Linked DNA regions of Homo sapiens: region 2 is linked to region 1. Evidence: fine-mapped expression QTL. A gene starts in region 1. The other region holds a variant in brackets. All regions are shown on one strand. Distances are between the middles of the regions. Region 1 holds the start of STXBP5L (syntaxin binding protein 5L). Region 2 has its middle 17 kb from the start of LINC02049.

Evidence for each region. PIP is the estimated chance that this variant, and not a neighbour inherited with it, causes the effect.
Region 2: its variant is the best candidate, but not a certain one, in a credible set for the expression of STXBP5L in thyroid (GTEx, PIP 0.71).

Annotation. Positions count from the first base shown.
Region 1 is chr3:120,903,230-120,913,387 of GRCh38, reverse strand. STXBP5L (syntaxin binding protein 5L) reads right to left here and starts at 5,183. Exons shown (of 27, transcript NM_001308330.2): 1 at 5,054-5,183; 2 at 3,621-3,817. The coding sequence starts at 3,809. LOC105374069 (a long non-coding RNA gene) reads left to right here and starts at 5,295. Exons shown (of 6, transcript XR_924399.4): 1 at 5,295-5,359. RefSeq lists a silencer at 5,112-5,351.
Region 2 is chr3:120,848,692-120,858,849 of GRCh38, reverse strand. No RefSeq gene overlaps it. Among named protein-coding and RNA genes, the nearest start is that of LINC02049, 17 kb to the right of the region's middle. The variant G/A (reference allele first, on the strand shown) is at 5,242.

The sequences.
Region 1 (10,158 bases):
TGTGGGGCCATTCAAAAAAATGCAAGTGCCTAGGACTCATCCCTAGAGATTTTGATTCTCTAAGAATGGGGAGGTGCTGGAAATCTCTATTTTAGACACCAGAGTTAAGAAATACTGGCCAGCTAGATAGTGTATACCCTAGCAATAAGAAGGAAACAAGAAAAAAAAATTATTTGCTTTTCAAAGAGTTCATAGTATAACGGCAGTGACAGATTTTTAAGAAACTTTTTTAATCACAGGAAGATGCTAAATTCACACTATAGGTATATGCCAGATGCTACAGAAAAACATAGAATAGGTTTTTAAAAAAGAAAAAAAAGAACCCTGGTGGGTAGTTGAGGTGGCAGTGGTCAGAGCTAGTCTCATAGAGGTGATGTTTGAATTATGAGGTAAAAGATGGCTGGGAATTATCCAATCGTATGAAAGTAGAAAAGGTATTCTAGTCAGAAACGAAAGAATGAGAGAAGGCATTGAGATATGAGAAAATATGGTATCTTTTAGGGAATGCAGTATACTTAGGGAATCAAGCAAATAAAAATGGAAAGGTAAACAGGAATCTCTTCTGAAGGAAACTCTATACCCATCAAGGTAAGCAATTTGAAATTTATTTTATAGAGCAATAGTTTCAAATTGTATTTCACAGAATTCAAGTTCAGGAAAGGCAGTTCATGTATTTCACAAATACCTGGACAATGCAGGCATTCCAATGTATACACATTCTGAACGATTGCAGTAACCCAATGCATTAACTTTTTTTTTTTTTTGGCTGACCTTGAACCAAAGTTTCTTCTGCCATTTCTATGACTTTGAACATCTCATAGATATTTTGTTTATTATGAAGGGTACAGCTTTATACTTTCACTTTTTTAAGGCTAGCGAACATCCTACTACCTTCCTATGGGCGATATTACACAATAAAAAACAAATATAAAAAGTTTTTTTATCAATTGGCTGTATAATTTATTCTTATAATTTCTGAAACAAATGTGTGCCCATGAGTTGCCACATTTTTTTGTTTGAATAGATGTTATTTACTGTGGTTTCAAATAAGACTTTCATTTTAAGAGCATCATTGCTGTAGGAAACCAATATAGAATTTTTAGCAAGGAAATGACATAATTAACATTGTATTTCAGAAATAGCCATTATTGTAACAAAATGAAGTGTAATCCAGTAAAACTAGAAGTAAAGAGATCAGTTAGAAAGTGATTTCAAAAGACCAAGCAAGAAAATATGACGGAACGAACAAGTACTGGGGATGTAGAAAAGGTCATAAATTTCAGAAATACTAAGGAAATAGAATAGAGGGGATGTGATGACTAATCAGATAGAAGAGAGGAGGCTTTCAAACAGCCAAGTCTAGATTTATACTTTAGTTTTGCCCATGTTGAAAAGGTAGAAGCACCCAGAATATGACAGCTCCTTAGAACTCAGAAGAGAAATTTTTTTGCACATTTAATCAGGGAGTCTATGAGTCTAAATAAAGTCCCCATTTCAGTAACGGTCTAATTTTGGGATTTCCTTAGTCCATTTTTATATGTTTTGTTATAGACCAGGTAATTATAATACATCCATATAACTATTTTTTAAAATTAACTATATTCCTATCCAAAGATGTTACAGTATTTTCCACATTTAGTAAGACTTCAGTACTGTTAGTGGACAACTTATATAGCTATCTATCTTATAATTTATTTGGAAATCATAAGCTAATATTATTATAACCCACTAGTTATATTCGCTCTACTATGAACACGTGATTTTACAAACTTTAACAATAATATTCGTATATATTTTATCATCCTTTCCATTTATGCATTACCTTCACCTTATTCTGTCTGATCCTCCCAATAACCGTCTCTTAGTTAAGGAGAGCAGATACACTTATTCCTACACTGCAGATGCAGAAATCAAGGCTCAAGGGAGATAAATGGCTTACCCAAGAGTATATGGCTGTCAACTAGCAGAACTTTAAATAAAACACAAATTTTCTGATTCCTAGGCCAGTGCTCTTCCTACCATGCCATATGTTTTTAAAGTAGTATGTATTTAACTTCTGGTACTTCCTATGACTATCTCTTGCCTGAATAAATGGGAAGATAACTATGTATTCCATTATCTCTTGCATTCACCCATTTCCCTGAAGTTTTTTATTTAAAACCTTCTCTACAAGCTTTATGACCTCAACAGCCCAATGCCATTCTGTTTCAGAAGTCTATCTTTCCTATACCAGTTTTACCTCTGGTAAAATTCTCCTGTATCACTGTCATATACATGAATTGAGAGAATTTGGAAAAAATTTTCAGAATCTGATCGTGAAAATTGCAAACACATCAAAGATTAGAGAATCAGGGCATAATTCCCCTGCCTAGCAGTTCAAATTTGAACTCCAGGACTCTTTTACATTTGTCTCATAACCACTGTTAAGACCTTCCCTCATCGAACAGAATATCTGTTATTTCCTATTGAGGAAAAAAATTATTACTGTACACAAATTTCACAAAGTAGCTTAGAATTAAATCTGTTTATCTAAATTAACTCTAAATAAACTTGCTTTTATGTAAACTAATAACTATAGATTTAATGTTTTTATAATGACCCTGCTAGGAATATAGGCTGAGACAGTGATTGAAATATACCTCATTATACATATATCACTTGTTTACCACAAATATAATTTTAATAATTTCAAAAAACTTTTCTTTTGTGAAAGTATTTTTAAAAATTGTTAATTTCTGTAATTTTGCAATTTTTCTATTTCTTATGTAGCCAAACACATTTACAAAACTATATTCATTTATATGACATAAATAACTTAGTAGCCTTTGTTGCATATAATAGGCACATTCCAAGACAACTCAAAAAAGGGCAATAAAATTATAAATCACTTTATGTCATAAAATATAACAAATATAGCAATAACAATATCTCTATGCATTAACCTAATGCTTGTTTTATAAACTCTCATCTTCTCTACCTACCAGAAACTCTCTTTTGCATATTCATTAGAAGTTCAATATCAAAGTATAATTACATAAAATGTTTTCTTACTAAACCAGAACACCCGCTATTTTTGAGTTCCTACAACTGCAAGTTCTTATAAGCCTGTGCATTTGTCTGTTTGTGTATTTATGAAGAGTTTAAGAATGTGAAGGTGTTTTTATTCGGAATTTTAAAGCAATGTCATTGGCCCCCTTAAAATGAACATATTTTCCTATTATCTACTTAATCCTAGCAACATGCTAGTAGCTTTATTCATTTCATACTGAACAGTGAAATAACAATATTTTCTCTGATAACACAAAAAACCAAACGACTATTTGCTTCTTCAGTTAATATAATACACAAATATTAAAAATTTTGTCCACTATTGGATCTTAACATTATCTTGCAAATTCTACTTTTTGTGTGTGCTCATTTCCCACTTAAACTATCATTGCTTTTTAAGTTGACGCCTAAAATATCTATTAAGCCAAACTGATCTACCCACAGAGCTTTCTGCAGCAGACTCTGATGCTGACATCTCAACAGTTTCCTGTTCCTGGTATGTTTTTCCCCCCTTGTTTCCTTACAACAGTATAATAAAGAAATAATAGGCTTTAAGCCAATTCAAAACTTACCTTGCAAATCTGGAAATACTCCGAAGTCAAAGTTTCCTGAATTTCCTCTCTGAGAACCCCTGCAGTCCCCGCCGGATGTACGGAACCACTTCCAGCCCCACCACCACTGTTACTGCCACTGCTGCTACCACTGCCAGGGGAGGAGGCAGTTAAGCCATCCAAAACTTTTCGGAAATTAAACTTCTTCATTTTAAACACTGTTGAGAAATACAAAGGAAAAAAAGGGAAAGAGGTGACTTAACACGTGCAATTAGACCTTGGTAAAAGCCTTTCTCTTTTCATTAGTCAAGTCAGTCCCCATTTTATGAGCATTGGTTACGACCGACTGGAAAAAAAGAGTCAGGATTCGTTTTGCCAAATTTTAATTCTAAAAAGCATATCCTTTTTAAAAAAAGATAAATATAACACAACTCCAAAAGCAACAGTATTCCCTCCTCACACATCAGATTTTCAAGGACTGTATCCCCAGCTGTAACTACGCTTTATCAGCACTGGGGTAAAAATAAAAGGCAGTGTCATCATCGTCATTAGCATTATATCATCATTATTATACAATCAAACCAGAGTTCAACAGACCAAGACTCTGTCTCTCTCTTAAGGGCGGACTTTCCTTCTTCGAAACGTTCGGCTCAGAGTATTTTATTTTCAGAAAAACGACGTTGGGGGAGCCGGTATTTACTCTGCCACCACCTTCCGGGCTCTTCCCCCATCAGCTTCAACGCTTCCTTTTTTGTCACTATGAAAGGCGGGGAGGGGGGTACTTTTTCTAGTCCCCATCCCCCAGCAGCCCGGACCCCAAAACATCTGCGAGTGACCCACAGCAACAGCTGCCGGGGAGGGGGGGAGGAGGAGAACGGCGACACCGTCTGTTTCCACTTGTCCCTCCGCCTCCCCCTCACCTCCCCCTCATCTCCCTCCCCGCGTCCTCTTTCCCCCCTCTCCCCATCTCCTGCTCCCCTCCCTCCACCTCTGCCCGCAGCCGCCGCCGCGCTCTCCCGCCTGTTCGCCCGCCCGCCGTCCGCTCTCCCCGCTGCACGGCAGCCGCTCTCGGGGGACGTGAAGCGGTGGCGGCGACGGCTGCGGCCCGAGTCCCGCCTCAGCCTGCTGGGCGCGCAGAGCCGCCGCTCCCGCTGTCCCTCCCCCAGGCCCAGCGCTGAGGCGCGGGGCTCTCGCCCGCCCGCGGGCGCGCGAACACACAAACACCTCACGCCGAGGCATTCGCGCTCCCAGCCAGAACACACACAAACACCCTCACACGGGCATTCGCGCGCTGGTGCGCTCGCTCTCTGTCTCTGTCTCTCTCTGTCTCTCTCTCTCTCAAACACACACACACACTCACACAGACACACACAGGTGCGAGGGAGCCACAGCTGGACGGCGGCAGCGGCGGCGGCGTCCCAGAGGGATGACTATCTGACCCAGGACTTAGGCACCTTCCTCAGACGCCTCTAGCCGCCTGCCAGCCCGGGAAGCTGAGGGGGCCGAGGTAGGCGGGCTCCGGCCGCTTCTCTGGGCCCTCTGGTCGCGGCGCCTGGCGCTCTCCGAGGTCCTAACCGAGCAGTCAGGCTCCAGAGCAGGCTCCGCCCTCCCGCCGTGGGAGGCAGGCCCCGCCCCCGGGCCGGCCCCTAGCTTGCCCCGCCCTGCTTCTTCCCCGGCAAAGCTGGGAGGTGAAGGGGGCGGGGTGCCCGGGGACGTCAAAGGGCGGGAGTAGCTTCGGCGCCAATCCTAGATTCGATAGGGTAAGTTCTGTGGTCTCCAGGGCAGAAGAAATCTGTGGATAGGCCGAAGGTAAAGCCAATGACAGTGGGAGGGGGGAATTTAGAGAAGTAGGTGAGGTATTTGATTGACAGCGGTATTGGCCAGTATGCTGGGGGTCGTGCTCTGGGGGATGTAATTGGCGCTACCTGTTGAAGGACTCAAGTGTGAATCAATAGAATGCCTGCAAGCGTGCGAATTTGGACGCCTGGAGTCTGAGGATGCGGGAAGCGTTGCTTACCTTAGGTATGGCTCTGGACAGTATGGTGAACTGAGCAAGTGTTTTGCACCTTTTCACTTCTGCGAGCCTCTTCCCGGTCTTCAGGAGCATCTATCTGGCTCCCATCACTCTCCTGCTACCTGCACTCAACTTGTATCTGTGATTAACCCCTGCTGTTACCAATAATGGCTTAATGGTTCGTATCTGCCAAGGAGAATTGTATTTCAACAGTTTCAGAATATATAGCCTTCTAGAGCCTAAGGAATTGATTGCTTACCTTGCTCTCTAGTAAGTAGAATTACTCCTTCCCCATCATCCTCACATATACAAAGATATTTAATTTCTTTAAAGAAATATTTCTCACTCTGTAAACCGTATCAAGAATATATTTTAAGCTATTTCTGTGAGTCACAATAATCATTTTGAAAGATGTATTATTCAGTGCAGAAAAAAAAACTGTATCAGGATAGATTTGGTTCTGAGCCCTCACCTGCTATTGACTTCGGGAAAATTTGGACCCCGATGTCTTTGCGAAATGAATGGCAGTTCAGCGGGTCACAGCTAACTGAGACTTCAATTTGGGCATCACAACAGAACTCATTAGTGATCATTTCAAATATTGTCTTACATCTTACAATCTTTGACCTCTTTTTTTCTTTTCTTCTTTTTCTTCTTTTTCACCTCTCCTCTTCTCTCTCTCTCTTTTCTCTCAATCAAGGGAGAGAGTGGGAAGGAGGAAGCAGGAGACTTGAAGGATGATGACTTGTCCAAGGACATAGCAAAGAAATGGTAAAGATGAAATAGAGCTCAGTTTTTCAGATCCTCAGCTCAACGTTGAATCTTTCTGTCCTGAATGACTATTTCACTCCTTTTGGGACTCCCTACACTGCTGGTAGTCTCTCATTGCCACAGCTAGACAGTAACCTTCTTGAAGGCAAGCATGGAATTGTATATTTCTCCTAGATTATTTAGCACCAGGCACAATATTTCACTTAAAATAGGCACGTAAAGGGTTCTGAAGAGTTGGTTTATTAATATTTTTTATTAAAGATATATGAGTTGGTACCCAATTACATAATGTTTGAAAGGGGTAAAAATAATGGTGGAAATAAGTGATATGTCTGACACAAACTAGATCTTGGTAGGGTTCCAAATTCTGTATTGGGTCCCTAACAACAGGTATCTTTTTACTCTTTTCCACCTTTTTTCTTCTCTTCTTCCTGGCCCATTGCTCACCTCAAAGTATGGACGCTAGTTAAGGATAAAGAGTTTGCTTTCCTTGTTTTATGTCTGTCTTTTCTTTTTAAAAACAGAGGCAAGGAGGGTTATAATAAAGTGGCTGAGTTTTCATTTTTCTAATAAATGAAAGCAAGCCTATAGCAAGTAGTGGTTTGACATTTTGATGGGAGCGAAGAAGGAGAATAGCCCCAATTCAGCAAAGTGAGATGTAATGTTTGCAAACAAAACCTCTTAAACTGATCATCACTAGCACCATATTATCACAAACTAAATGATGGTCTTTATTCTAAAAATTGGGGGAGAGCTGAGGAAAAAAGTACACAAAAGATTGACAGAGATCCTTCTTGAGGACCCTGGAGAGAATTCAATGGACTGCCTGAGTTAGATGGGACAACAAATAGGTATAGGAAGTGGGAGAAAAGCCAAGTCAAAATGTATTCATGTTTCCAAATAAATATTGGAAGCCTAAAAAAATATGATCATTAGGATGCTTAGATTGTGGACTATTTGGGATTATTTCAAATATCTGTGTTCCTCCACAGTGAATAGCATAATGTCTTCTACATAGTAAGTGCCCAGTGAATATTAATTTGAATGAATGGCAGCAAGTAAAAATCATAACATAATTGCAGTCTCAGAGAGCCTGTGCACACAGGATATTGTGATGCCAATTCACAAACTGTGAGCAAAGGATAGAATTAAGCAAGAGGCAGAGTACATTGTGTGTATGAGGAGACAGCAGAAACAATAGCCTAAAAATCTTACTAGGTGAGAGAAGCATAATGAAATATCTATGGAAGTAAATTTCATCCTGGATTAATTAAAAAGCAATAAGATGTTATTTTATAAACCATCTATTAACAGCAATGAGACCAGACCACAGCATATATTTTATAAATAATGTGAGAAACTTCAGAGTTGGATCGGGTAATAATAATGATGACCCCTTATCATTCACTGCAAACTGGAAGAATACTTTGTGGAGAGGAATGGCTGAGGTACAGCTTCTGAATAAGGCTTGATTTCTTCCTAAAATGACAAGTATGAAGAACTGCAAAAAGAAAAATACTTTCAGCTTGATCCATGGAGCAAAATCATCAAAGCATTTAAATAAATCTACTACATCAGAAGGATTTTTAGGATGTGTGTTGAAAATATGTTACAACTCACTTTAAGTGTTCGTGATTTTGGACTCAAGCCAACAATGAAGCTAAGAGAGGCTGCCTTTCCACACCTGCAAAATAATTAAATAATTGTAGAAAGTATGTACATGTGTGGCACTTCACACAGAGAAGAAAATTTAACTGGCTAGGGTTACAGAAAACTAAGCAAAATTGACAAAACCATATGTAAATAATCCATTGTATATAGAGATAATAATAATTCTACCAGTTATTTAGCACTACGTCAAACATTGTACTATGAACTTTACATACAACTCTTTTAACTTGATCCTTATTATAACTCTATAAGATAGGTATTGTCCCCATTTTATGAAAGAGGAAATTTGGAGCTCAGAAATATTTAAGAAATTCACCCAAGGTCACTTAGGTGGATAATCCAGTCTTCGAATTCAAAGCTGTCTAACTTCTAAGATCATGCTCTTAATCGGTGCCTTATTATTTGATACCATTTAGAAGATTAAATAGAAACTAGAATAGAAAAAAAGGTGGCGGGTCAATTCTCCACCTAAAATAGTGATTGTATGTGTATTAGTCTTTCAGGACTGCCATAACAAAATACCATAGACTGGGTAGCTTAAAAAACAGGAACTTAGCACAGTTTGGGAGGCTAGAAATCCAAGATCAAGGCATCGGCAGATTTATTTTCTTCTGAGGCTCTCTCAATGGCTTGCAGATAGTCACCTTCTCTCTGTGGCCTTACATGGTCTTTTCTCTGTGGGCTCACATCCCTCGTTGATTTCTCCATGTGCCTAAATTTCCGCTTCTTATAAGGCTCCCAGTCAGATTGTGTTAGAGTCCACCTTCATGGCCTCATTGTGGCTTAATCACCTTTTAAAATATCCTATCTCCAAATATGCTTCCATTCTGAGGTACTGAAGGTTAGGGCTTTGACATATGAATTTTGGGAAGACACAATTTAGCCCATGACAATAAGATCATCAAATTCAACATCCTTTGAGGAGAGCATCTACTATGAGCTGGAATTGTGTTTAAAAATTTACATTTATTGGCCGGGCGCGGTGGCTCACGCCTATGATCCCAGCACTTTGGGAGGCCAGGGTGGGTGGATCACGAGGTCAGGAATTCGAGACCAGCCTGGCCAACATGGTGGCCTGTCTCTGCTAAAATACAGAATTTACCTGGGCACGGTGACAGGAGCCTGTAATCCCAGCTATTTGGGAGGCTGAGACAGGTGAATTGCTTGAACCCAGGAGGCAGAGTTTGCAGTGAGCCGAGATCGCGCCACTGCACTCTAACCTGCGTGACAGAGCGAGACTCCATCTCAAAAAAAAAATTACATTTATTTTCTCATTTAATCCTCACAACAATAATGTATGGTAGCTATAGATAACTCCATTTTACAGGTAAAAAACTGAAGCAAAGCAAGGTTAAGTAATAAGCCCAATATCATACATCTGGTAGGTTTTGAAACAAGAATTTGGACTAATCTCAATCTTACTCCAAAGTTCTTTCCTCACGCTAGTAGTTTTCTGTTGAGGACCCAGAGAAATCCCTTTATAAAGGTGTTTTATATTAGAAAAGTTAATTATGACAAATTCGAGTATTAGGTTAAAACAAAACAGAAAAAAATGGAAAATATCTCTTCAGGAATTTGGATACTAGAACTAAAAAGACATTTGAGAGTTCATGGGCACTGAGTACTAGAAATGGAAGACTTTGGGAACGGCAAGCTAATGGGAGGTTCTTATCTCACAAGAAATCTCAGTATAATTTGAAATACATTAACAGAGTCGCAGGGGAGTACCCCATCAAAATTGAAGAAAATCAGTTATCAATAACTAATTAGATGTAGTAAGGCAGTATTAATTTGCTGAGAAAGGCTGTAGTCTGAGTGACTATCAGAACAGCTGGAAGGAGAATTTGGATGGAGGGAGAATGATGACATAATACTTACCATAAGGTGGGGCTGGCAATTGTTTACATTAGCAAATGCGAACATTTCCATTGTGCGTGCTGTGAGCTTCTAGGTCCTGGCATGAGCAACCTAATTTGTCACTCACTTCTGACTCTTCAATCAAGTTATAGCAGTGTCCTTATTATTTGCCGGTTTAAAAGTTAGAATTTCAGTAAGAGAACATAGCTAAGTAAACAGGTTCCACCTATATCCTTTCTGGCAAAT
Region 2 (10,158 bases), 55 kb after region 1:
TTTAAGCAGACATAATTCGAGTGCGGGACCAGTCATAAATGATGACTAATTTGTAAAACTGATGTAAACATCCATTGAATACAATCAAATAATCATCCAGTGGTTATCACTTGGCATCCTTGGATAGCCAAATGTCATACACAATGTAATGCAGAGATGACTCAACAACATTCAACAAATATTTATTGAATACTGAGTTGGAAAACATCTGTGTACATGCCAAAAATGTCCCGCTGTCATGGAGCTTATATTCTAGCTGAAAGAGAGAGACAGAAAGCAGAAAATGTAATAAATAAATAAACCAATTGTATGGTATGCTAGGAGGTGAAGGGCGCAATGGAGTGAAGAAAACAAATAGAGTAGGACATGGGAGATCAGGAGCTCCGGGGATTGGGTGTGAGTCAGTTTTTAGTAGGTCTGGGGTAGGTCTCATTGAAAGCATAACATTTGAACCAAGATTTGAAGGAGGTTCTCTACAACTTCCACAGGTGACTGCTGCTTTCTCTGCCTTATATGCCTGTCTTAATTTACTGTTATTGCCAGGGAATCTCTGATGGCCCAGAATGCATGTTGTTTCACCACAGATCTTTGGACAGGAAGGCTGATTTAGATGCTTGCAAGAGGTGGGCAGAACCAGGTCTGGTCTTTGTCTAAGTGAAGCACTTGTTGTTTCCCCACCCAGACCTTTAGATTTTCAAACTATTCTTTCTTCAAATGGCTCACTTTTGCTGGTTTGATATATTCTTAACCATATTATTATTATAAATAATAATAGCAAACATTAAAGTTTATTGGGCATCAAGCTAAGTATCAAGCTCAGCATTAAGCACTCTATATATACCATCTCATTTAATTCTCATAACAGTTCCATGAACTAGAGAATGTTATTACTTCTATCTTACGGATAAGAAAACTGAGGCTTGGGGAGGTTAAATAGCTTACTCAAGATTAAAGAACTGGTAAGTGCCAGAGTCAGGCTGCAAGCCTGTCTGATTCCAAAGTTGATTTAGTTAATAAATTTAGTACTGAATTAAATATATTCCTTAATATAAACTTTAAACTATATAGTAAAGATCACAAATTTAATGGTTTTTTGAAGACATTGCTTTAGCTATCTTGGGTAATTTACACCCACAAAGAACATGACATTTGTTCTCACAATGCTTCTGATTGTCCAGTGCCATGGTTTCACAAATTTCATTTAGCAGCAAAATATTTTACTAAACAAAACCTTACAATAGAAGACTGGATCAGTCATAGTCCTAGCATGACAAATTCAAACTGAAGGAAAACTCAAAAAGGGTAAGTGAATAGGGTTTAATGAAGGGGCTATTCACAAAGGTCTGGGTGGGATAAAGGGAAAACTACAAGGGAAGGTGAGAGTACCTCAGGGCCAGGAATGGTGTTGCCACCCCTAGGCCTGAAGGTGCAAGAAAGAGGGCAGAGTGATGATCAAGACCTGGCAAGAACTGAAGCTATGGGAGAGGGCCACCAAATAAGAGAGGTGGGCTTTGGTAGAGGAATGAAGCCATTGCCAACAACAACCTAGAAATTAAGGAATCTGGAAAAGAAATACCCTTGCTTCTCTCTCCTTCGGCCCTCCAATCTACTGCTGCTTCTTCCATTGGCTGAACCCAATAGAAAGCTAAAGGTCAAGGAAGTTCAATTAATGCAATCCATAGAAGTCAGCCTCCCGAGACAAAAGACAAGATGAAAAGGACAGAGAATGGATTTAAACAAGCAAACAGAAGATATCCAGCACAGAACCAAATATGCAAAACTCGTCAAGCGGAATTTTTCCTGTTGAATAGGGGTGGGGTCTTCAGAGCCTGCCAACTTGATTCTCCACACTCACTTTCACTACAACAATCTCTGCGAAAACTTTGTTGAACTCTAGTGCTCTAGTCTAGTCCTTATGTTATAAATATCTCAGTCACAATCAACTACAGGTATGTGTGCATTGCCAACCACCATTTTTGAAAAACACAATATGTGTGTACACAATCATAGCACAAAAGGAGAGGTACCAGACCTGTCCCTGAAGGCTCAGAGTTCCAGGCTCTGGAAAGAATAGTCTGATAGCACATGTGATCGTACTGAGGGTCCCCTGAATCTGGGAACCTGAGGGCTGAATGAAACATCTATGAGATGTATAGGTCAGCTGAGGACCCTCTTTCCCCACTAGACAGGCTTTGGGCTTATAGGGGCTTCCATGGGGCAGCCTTGTCTGTTATTAAATGGGACTTTCCCAAAGGGATTCACAATTAAGTTTTGTGTGTCCATCAGATTAGAGAGAGGAATTTATATCCAAAGACATTGAAATATGTAGTTATTCACAAGGACAAACAAGGAAATAGATATAAGGGGAGAGGGGGCAAAAATAAAGGGTAGTTGGAAAGAGGGTCATATAGGTAAGATAAGTTATTAATCAGAAAAGTAACCACAAAGTGCCCATCACTAACCAAGTGCAAGTCTAATGCAGTTACTGGCAGCTGAGAAGCAATACCCTCCAAATATGCTCTGAAGTCTGAATCACAGCCTGGCCTCCTCCGCGGGGGCTGCTGCAGGTCCATCAGTCATTGGGCAGAGCTGCTGAGCACACCCTCTGCTGCTATGCAGAGAAGTCTGACTAGGAAAGCCAAAACTAGGATGGGGATGGGCGGGAATGGAGAGGCGCCAGCACACAGGAGCCAGACAGCCAGCCAGATATTCTGTCACTGGAGCTGCTACTTAAATCTCTTGGTTCACTGGAGAAAAAGTTTTTTTTTTTTTTTTTTTTTTTTTTGCGGGGGGAGAGAGGGATGTTGTTTTTAATCTCAGTAGCTAGAGTGGCCTTCATGGGGAACAAAAATAAGCTAAACGGAGGAGAAAGGCACAGCTGTTCTTTGCTTTCTGAAGAGTTCTCCAAATCTCTTATTTTATTATGTGTTGATGCAGCTGCCCAGCCAGAGGAACACGGCTTACCTCTGTGCCAAATGCAGGTAGAGAACAAGGTGGTGTGAGATGCAGCCTATGCTGCCCCATCTCTCTTCTGTGTTATGGCCCCTGGCCCTGCTCCCCTCCACAGCATGTCTCTCCTCTAGGTTGGCAAGCTTTATATTAATAACATAAAACCTTTGTCACACATGAGATGGAATGCAAATCATCTTACATATATTATCACATTTAATTAACAACATTATGAGGTAGGTACTATTATTACCACTGTCTATCTAGACGGGAAAATTAGGACTTGGGGAAGTCAAGAAACTTATAAACAAACAGCAGGCTGGAGTTTGAGCCCCAGCAGGCTGACTCAGTACCTGTGCACATAAACACCAGACCATCTTGTCTTGTCTATATATGGTTAGTACTTCACCTTATGCCTTTGTTTCCTCTGTCCTCTGAGTCAGCCTGGCCTCCATGTTTCTGACTCTAGACTGATCACTTAATATTTGGTTTTTAATTATTTTCTCTGTCACAGATGCTATAAAGGGAAGGCCAAATGCCGCTTGCCTGGCTTCTCTCTTCTCCTAAGAAAAGCCAGTCAGGGGGCCATCTGCAGGGCAATCAGTCCTGGTCAGGAAGAGGAAAGCGCCCAGGCCTGTCCCTTGGAGGGCCATCCCTCCTCCACATAGAATCCCATTCTCAGATCTAATGTTGAATGCAGAGCCCTGCCTTGAAATGTAGTTTAGCTGAATCCAGAAAGCCTCCCCAAACCTTGTACGTCCTCTAATGAGGAAAAGGAAGCTGGGCCATTAGCCTGAATCTATGACAGTGCCCATAAAAAGCAATGTTTGCTTTGCAAAACTGAGTCAGAGAGGAGAGGAAAATAACTCACACTTCAAAATCACCTCACCAAGTGTTTTCAGATAATTAAGAATGATTTAAATGCTCACATTTAGGAATTCAGTTGCAATTCAGAAAGCTACTAAAATTTTCCTTATTCAGAATAATACATGGGTTTAGATAAGACCTTTCAGTTTCAACTGTGTCAGTATTATAGGGGTAGATTTGAAATTGCTTTCTGTGTGTATCATGGAACTTCATGCTTCAATTCCATATCCTCTGCCTTTTTTCTTTTCCCAAGTAAAACTATCAATTTTTCTGGTATATTTTGCATATGTATATATTCATACATACATACTCATATTTAAATGAAAATTGAGAAGATTAAAAGTAAAGTTTACATGAATCATGGAAGCAGCTACTTTACCACCTTAGTTTTTCCTCCCCCTCTTTGTGGTATAGGCTTTGTGTCTTGTTCTAGAGAATAAAAAGATATATGGAATTACATATATTTCAGGATATATCTGTGGTTATTCATGGTTTTAGTCTCTAAAGCTTAACCTCAGCTTTAGAATTAATTTTATCCTTTGTATTATGGCACATTTGCTTGCAGGGAAGAGAAATCTACTTAACGTGGCTCAAGTAAAGGGGGCTTATTATAACGATACAGATCTACAAATCAAGAGGCCTCAGAAAAACCAAGCAAATCAGGAAACTTCAGCAATAGTCATTCTGTTTCCAACATAAACACTATTCAGCTACTAATGTCCTCAGTTTCTAGCTTTCTTGGTTCAAATTAGAAAGAGAGAGAGAGAGAGAGTCTGCTCAGTCAGCTCAGTCTGTACATTAGTTCTCTTTGAGTCAAATGACACCCCTGTGGTCACTGTAGCCAAGCAAAGTAAAACAGGGTTATTTGCTACCAACGGAGCCACTAGAGCTATATTGCAGATTCTCTCAATAGAATATGTGGTTAAATGTATATGAGTGCATGTTTGGGGTTGAATGGGAATGGGGCAGAAAATGATAAATATCAATTTCTAATATATCCATTAAAGAAAATCTAAGATGAAAAATTATCTTTCTTCAAGGTTTCATATTGTTTGCTCAAACCCTAGGTTTCTAGGGGGCACTTCTAGCATATGTTATTTTAAAGTTTAGTGAAAGACTGTGTGCTAAAATGTCTGTTCTCTGCCCCACAAACTGCTTCAAGACCTAGGGCTTAAGGTAGTGAAAAATAATACATAAGAGCAGCATAGAACTTAACAATAAATTATGTCCTAAGAGTTTCTTGATGTATTAGTTTGCTATGGTATCTCTAACAAATGAATACAACAATAAAGAAATGTATTTTCTCACAATTCTGGGAGCCAGAAATCAAGATCAAGGTGTGTTGCAGGGTGGCTTCTTGTGACCTTTCTCCCGACTTGCAGATGGCTGTGTTCTCCCCATATCTTCATATGGCTTTCCGCGCAC[G/A]CGCGCGCGTGTGTGTGTGTGTGTGTGTGTGTGTCCTAATGTCCTTTCCTTATAAGGAAATCAGTCATATTGCATTAGGGCTAACCCTAATTTTCTTTATTTTAATTTAATTACCCCTTTAAATATTTTGAAACACGGTCACATTCTGAGGTACTAGGGGGTTAGGACTTCAACATGTGAATTTTGGGGGAGACACAATTAAGCCTAAAACAATTGGGAGGCCTATTATTTGGAACAGGAATAGAAGACGCATTTTCCAATCACTCGCCTGGACAGTAAACTCCTCCCTGGTCTTCCCACTTTACCATGTTATGGTAAATCCACCAGAAAGCCAGAGATTGATCCTTTTCTAAACCAATGACAAATCTAATTTTGTCATTTCCTGCTTAGAGGACCCCCTCAAGGTCCAAATGCCTCCCATATCACACACAGCTTCCCACAGTGAGCTCCAGGTAGTATCCCCAGTCCCCAGCCTCACCTCCAGCCACTCTTCTACCCTTCTGCACACGATGCTCCAAACCCCTGGACCACTGACTGATGGCATGTTGGGAAATTTCTGCCTTATGCATTTTATGTTCTTATTTATTCTGTATTTAAACAAATTTCATGGTACTTTAAAGACAAAAAAATTATTCTACATTACTGCTTTCTACCATTCATTACTTGTACATTTATTTCAATTACATTGTAAGTGAAATAGAATTCTGGACTCTCTAAGAACCTAGCTTATTATTTCTGATTAATTCCATAAATATTTGTTATGCACCTATCAAAAGTCATTTATGTCTTGACATTTATTATATAAAGATGAAAAGTGAAGTCTCTGATTTTAGGAAGTTCAGAGTCTAGCTGTGAAGGAAGACAAGCATGTAAACAAGTAACTGTAATATAAGGTGACAAGTGCGGGAATAGAAATATGCATGCAGCACTCTAGGAATGCAAAACAGATTAATTTTACCTGAGGTGGCTAGAAAAGCTTCAGGGAGGGTAGTTGATATTTGAGCTAGAAACTTGATAAGAGGAAGTGGGAAATTTCAGGTACACAGCAGGAAAAGCAAAGATAAGAGCCGTTTACAGATACCTGCCAGGACATTAGGGGACCCTCAGCTGCTATCCCTTTTCTCTATCTGGGAATCTGCAGCTAAGGGTTATGTAGCCTTTGCTTTTGAACTGTCAAAATGCAAAGCATCTAATTATACCCCCCTTATTCTAGACAGCAACTGTTGAGTTCAGACTCTAAGAACTCCTATCCACCTGCCTGTCTGAAAGAAACCACCTTCAGATTCCACAGTAATTTCCCTTCTGAAGGAGAGGCCTAAGGTGATTCCATGGTGCTTTTATGGTGCCTCTCTCCCTAAAGAAAAGAAAAAAATTAATCTCTGGAAAGTTACGCTGTTGCATATGATAATTTCCTTTTTGAAAGATCCCAATGTCTTGCCAGCACTCCAAACCAATTGAATCAAAATTTCTGAGAGTGGGACAAAGGCATCAGTACTTTTTAAAGCTCCCTAGATGATTTCAATGTGAAGCCAAGCTTGAAAATTACTGATTCAGAATATATGGGTATTTTCCCCCTTATTACTGATATTTAACTATCATAATTTTCAAGGTTTTTTGACAAGATTAGAATTACTTGTTGGTTCAGAGATGGAAGGGGACAGACACTGCTTGTTTTCATCTCCAACGTGAAATTTGTCTTTTCCTGTTTTGGTTTATCTCAGTCACATAGTCTATCTTGTTTCTGTCAACATTCCTTTATCTTTCTCAGGCACGTGTCCTCAGGTTAGGAGACAGGTTTTGGCCAAGTGAGTTTAAGAGAAAGGCCTGCAGCCTGCCCCACCTCTGCTTCATTGCTTCCATAGCTAGGAGGTCACCTTAACTTAAGGATGCAGACAATGGTATCTTCACCTGACTTCAGAGTATTCTTTGGAGCTAAATCTCTGCGATGCCCTCTTCGTGCAAGGACTGATCCCAGTCCCTGACCTGTAGACTGAAGTTAGACTAAATACATCTCTTTCCATTGCCTAATCCTCCCAATATGCTGCTGAGGAAGGGGATGAGAGGAATGGAGAGATCCTGACATCAGAAGAGAAGGGAAGAACTTTAGTTGGGGAGAAGGTGGACCACCAGCCCTCATCCTCAGACATGACACCTGATCTCTACTCCTCCTTTTCCCTGATTTGAAGACAGAGATTGTGAGAAGGCAGTTGGCTGGAGGGGACTAGGCAGAGGAGAGAAGAGTGAACCAATTAGCTAGTCTACTAAAAAGTTAGCATCAGTAGAGCGGGAAAAGGAAGAACTCAGAGACCCAGCAATCACAGTGACAGTGACAGGTAAATGAAGCCCAGACTAGGCAAAACTGCTGGTGCTGCAGTCCACTGAGTCAGAAAGAACTAATTTATCATCAAATTAACCAGCTAACGCCTGTGGATGAAGCATCCCACACAAGTGTTGGCTCTAGCCAGGCTGCTCATTTGTCAGCACTGAAGTGACATCATCCAAATTCACAGGCAGATGCCCAACTTGATGAAAACTCATGATTCACCCAGAATCTGTTGGGCATACACAGCTGACTGGGTGACCTCTAAGGCCCCTTCTGGTTTTTTAATTCTAAAGTTCTGTGATCCCAAGTTGCTGCCATGAACCTGGCATGTCCCAGAAAGTGCACTCAGGGGTATTTCCAAGGAGTTTTGTGTCTAGGTGCCAGTGCATTTTATGTGAAAAATGAAGGCTCACTATGCCAAGGGAAAGAAATTGCCAAAAGGCAATTTCCAACAAAGGAATGGCTGTTTCTATGTGCCCATTTTTCCTAAGCAGTCCTCTAAATGGTATACAAACACAGGGCCATTATCTCAACCAGTTTCTACCCAGGCAATGAGATATTTGTATGGCAGAGATCTTACTCTTCCTTCTTCCTGGTTGCCCATAGATAGAATTCCCTTAGGACCATACTACAGAAGCCACGCCCCACCCCTTTGCTATTAGCAATCTGTCTCCCCTTCTGCGGCTTTCTAAGCTTACTTGTTCAGAGGCACCATGGGGGGGTTGGTCTTTATTTCTGATCCCTCCAGGTAGTAAACATTGTGCCAATTCCTTTTGGACTGAGAACTAGAGTCAGCAGAGAACTCAGCGGAAATAAGGGCTCTGCAAGGATGGAAGCAGACCATGTGTTCCTCCTGCGTGCATAACAGGTCTCTGTTCTCACGCTGAGATAGCAGCTGCAGCTCCGCACCCTATCCCCACCAGACCCTTGCCTTATTCTCTTTTTTAATCACTTATTCTGGCTGTTCTTCCTCCCAACAATAATTCATAATGATTTCAGATAGAGTGCTCCTCTCATCATGGTGAAGTATAAACAGTGAATTTACAATAAATACCACTTACATAATTCTTTGACTGCATATGAAAATAAGGGGAAAGACTTAAAATATTTTCCTTCTAATCATGAGTTAGAAACATTGGTGGATTTGGATTATAATCATTTGTTTTTGTGGTTTTTACAAAAGCATTTCCCATTTCCTGGATTTTCTTATTACATTAAAATATCTGTTCATAGGAGGCTGGGATCTATGGCTCTGTATTTTTAAAAGGAGAAAACGGACAAAAAATTAGACATCATGGATGTAATTTTTAAAGTAATTTTAAAGAATGTCCTGAGTAATAATGAATCAGTACAATCTTGCAAACTTCTGCTGTGTGCATTATCTGCAATGATAGGTGATTCACTCATTCACAGAAAGATTCACTCATTCTATAAAATCCTCAAACTTTGAGGAAACATTACATTCTCTGGTAATTCCATATCTTCAAATTACCCAGGGTTGTGAGAATAAGTAAGTTGAGCTGAAAAAGGGAACACGTCAAATACTTTGCCATTCTGTGAATAAGGCACATCCCTCAGATGAGAAATCCTGGTTAAATGTGAGGACTCAATGAATTCTGGGAGTTTTAAACTAGAAAAAAAAAAAAAAGGAATTTGCTCTGAGAGGAAACAAGAAGGCCAATTAGGCCAGTTCATAGGAAATAAGATATAATCAGACCCCCAGAATCCGAGTAGCCAAAAGGAGGCTGGAATTTGAGAAGGAAGGTAGGAAAGACATCTATAAATCTGCACCATGCCTCAGACCAAAGTATATCTATTTTAATATAAGAAGTTTTGAGATTCAGATAAGTTTTGCCATATTTACTAGTAACCTTAGAACCGAAAACATATGCTATACTTTAAAGATTAGATAATTGCAAAGTCTTTATACTCTCCCTTATATATTTCCCCATTTCATTAAATTATAGAGTCACCTTATTTTTTTTAAGAAAATTGTTGTTTTTCTACCTTGTATAGTGTAATTTCTTAATTACAGCTCTTAATTTTGGAGTATATCTCCCTGCCATACATGGTCCACTCATAAGTGATTACACCTAACTGTGCTGGAAAAAAAGACTACTATGGAAAATGTTTCATATGTAAGATTGAAAATTTTTCCTGACTAATTTTAAATTAGCAAGGAAAGTCAATTTCGGTGTAAATTTTTACATTATAGGTAAACATTTAGTGATCACAGAAGATAGTAAAGGAAATTGAAGATTGGAAATGGATAATTTTTGCCCAATTAACAAAAATGGCAGGGTAGAAGAGAGAGTAGCTCTCTATGACTAGGAACTATGGACAAATAAGTATAAAATTGCATCTTGCCAAAGGTCTGAAACAGATTTATTTACAATGGTTTGTAATCACATGGAATCTGAAGCGGTGAACATCAGAAGCCAGCATAGGATGCAAAGAAAGAAAAACATCATTTCCCTTAATAAGATTAGAGATATACTAAACAGAAGGAATTCCAAAGACAAATCATGATTTCAGTAAATCTCTTAGAATGTCACAGACAGGATGATTTGGTGTGAGCTAGGATGATGGTTTAG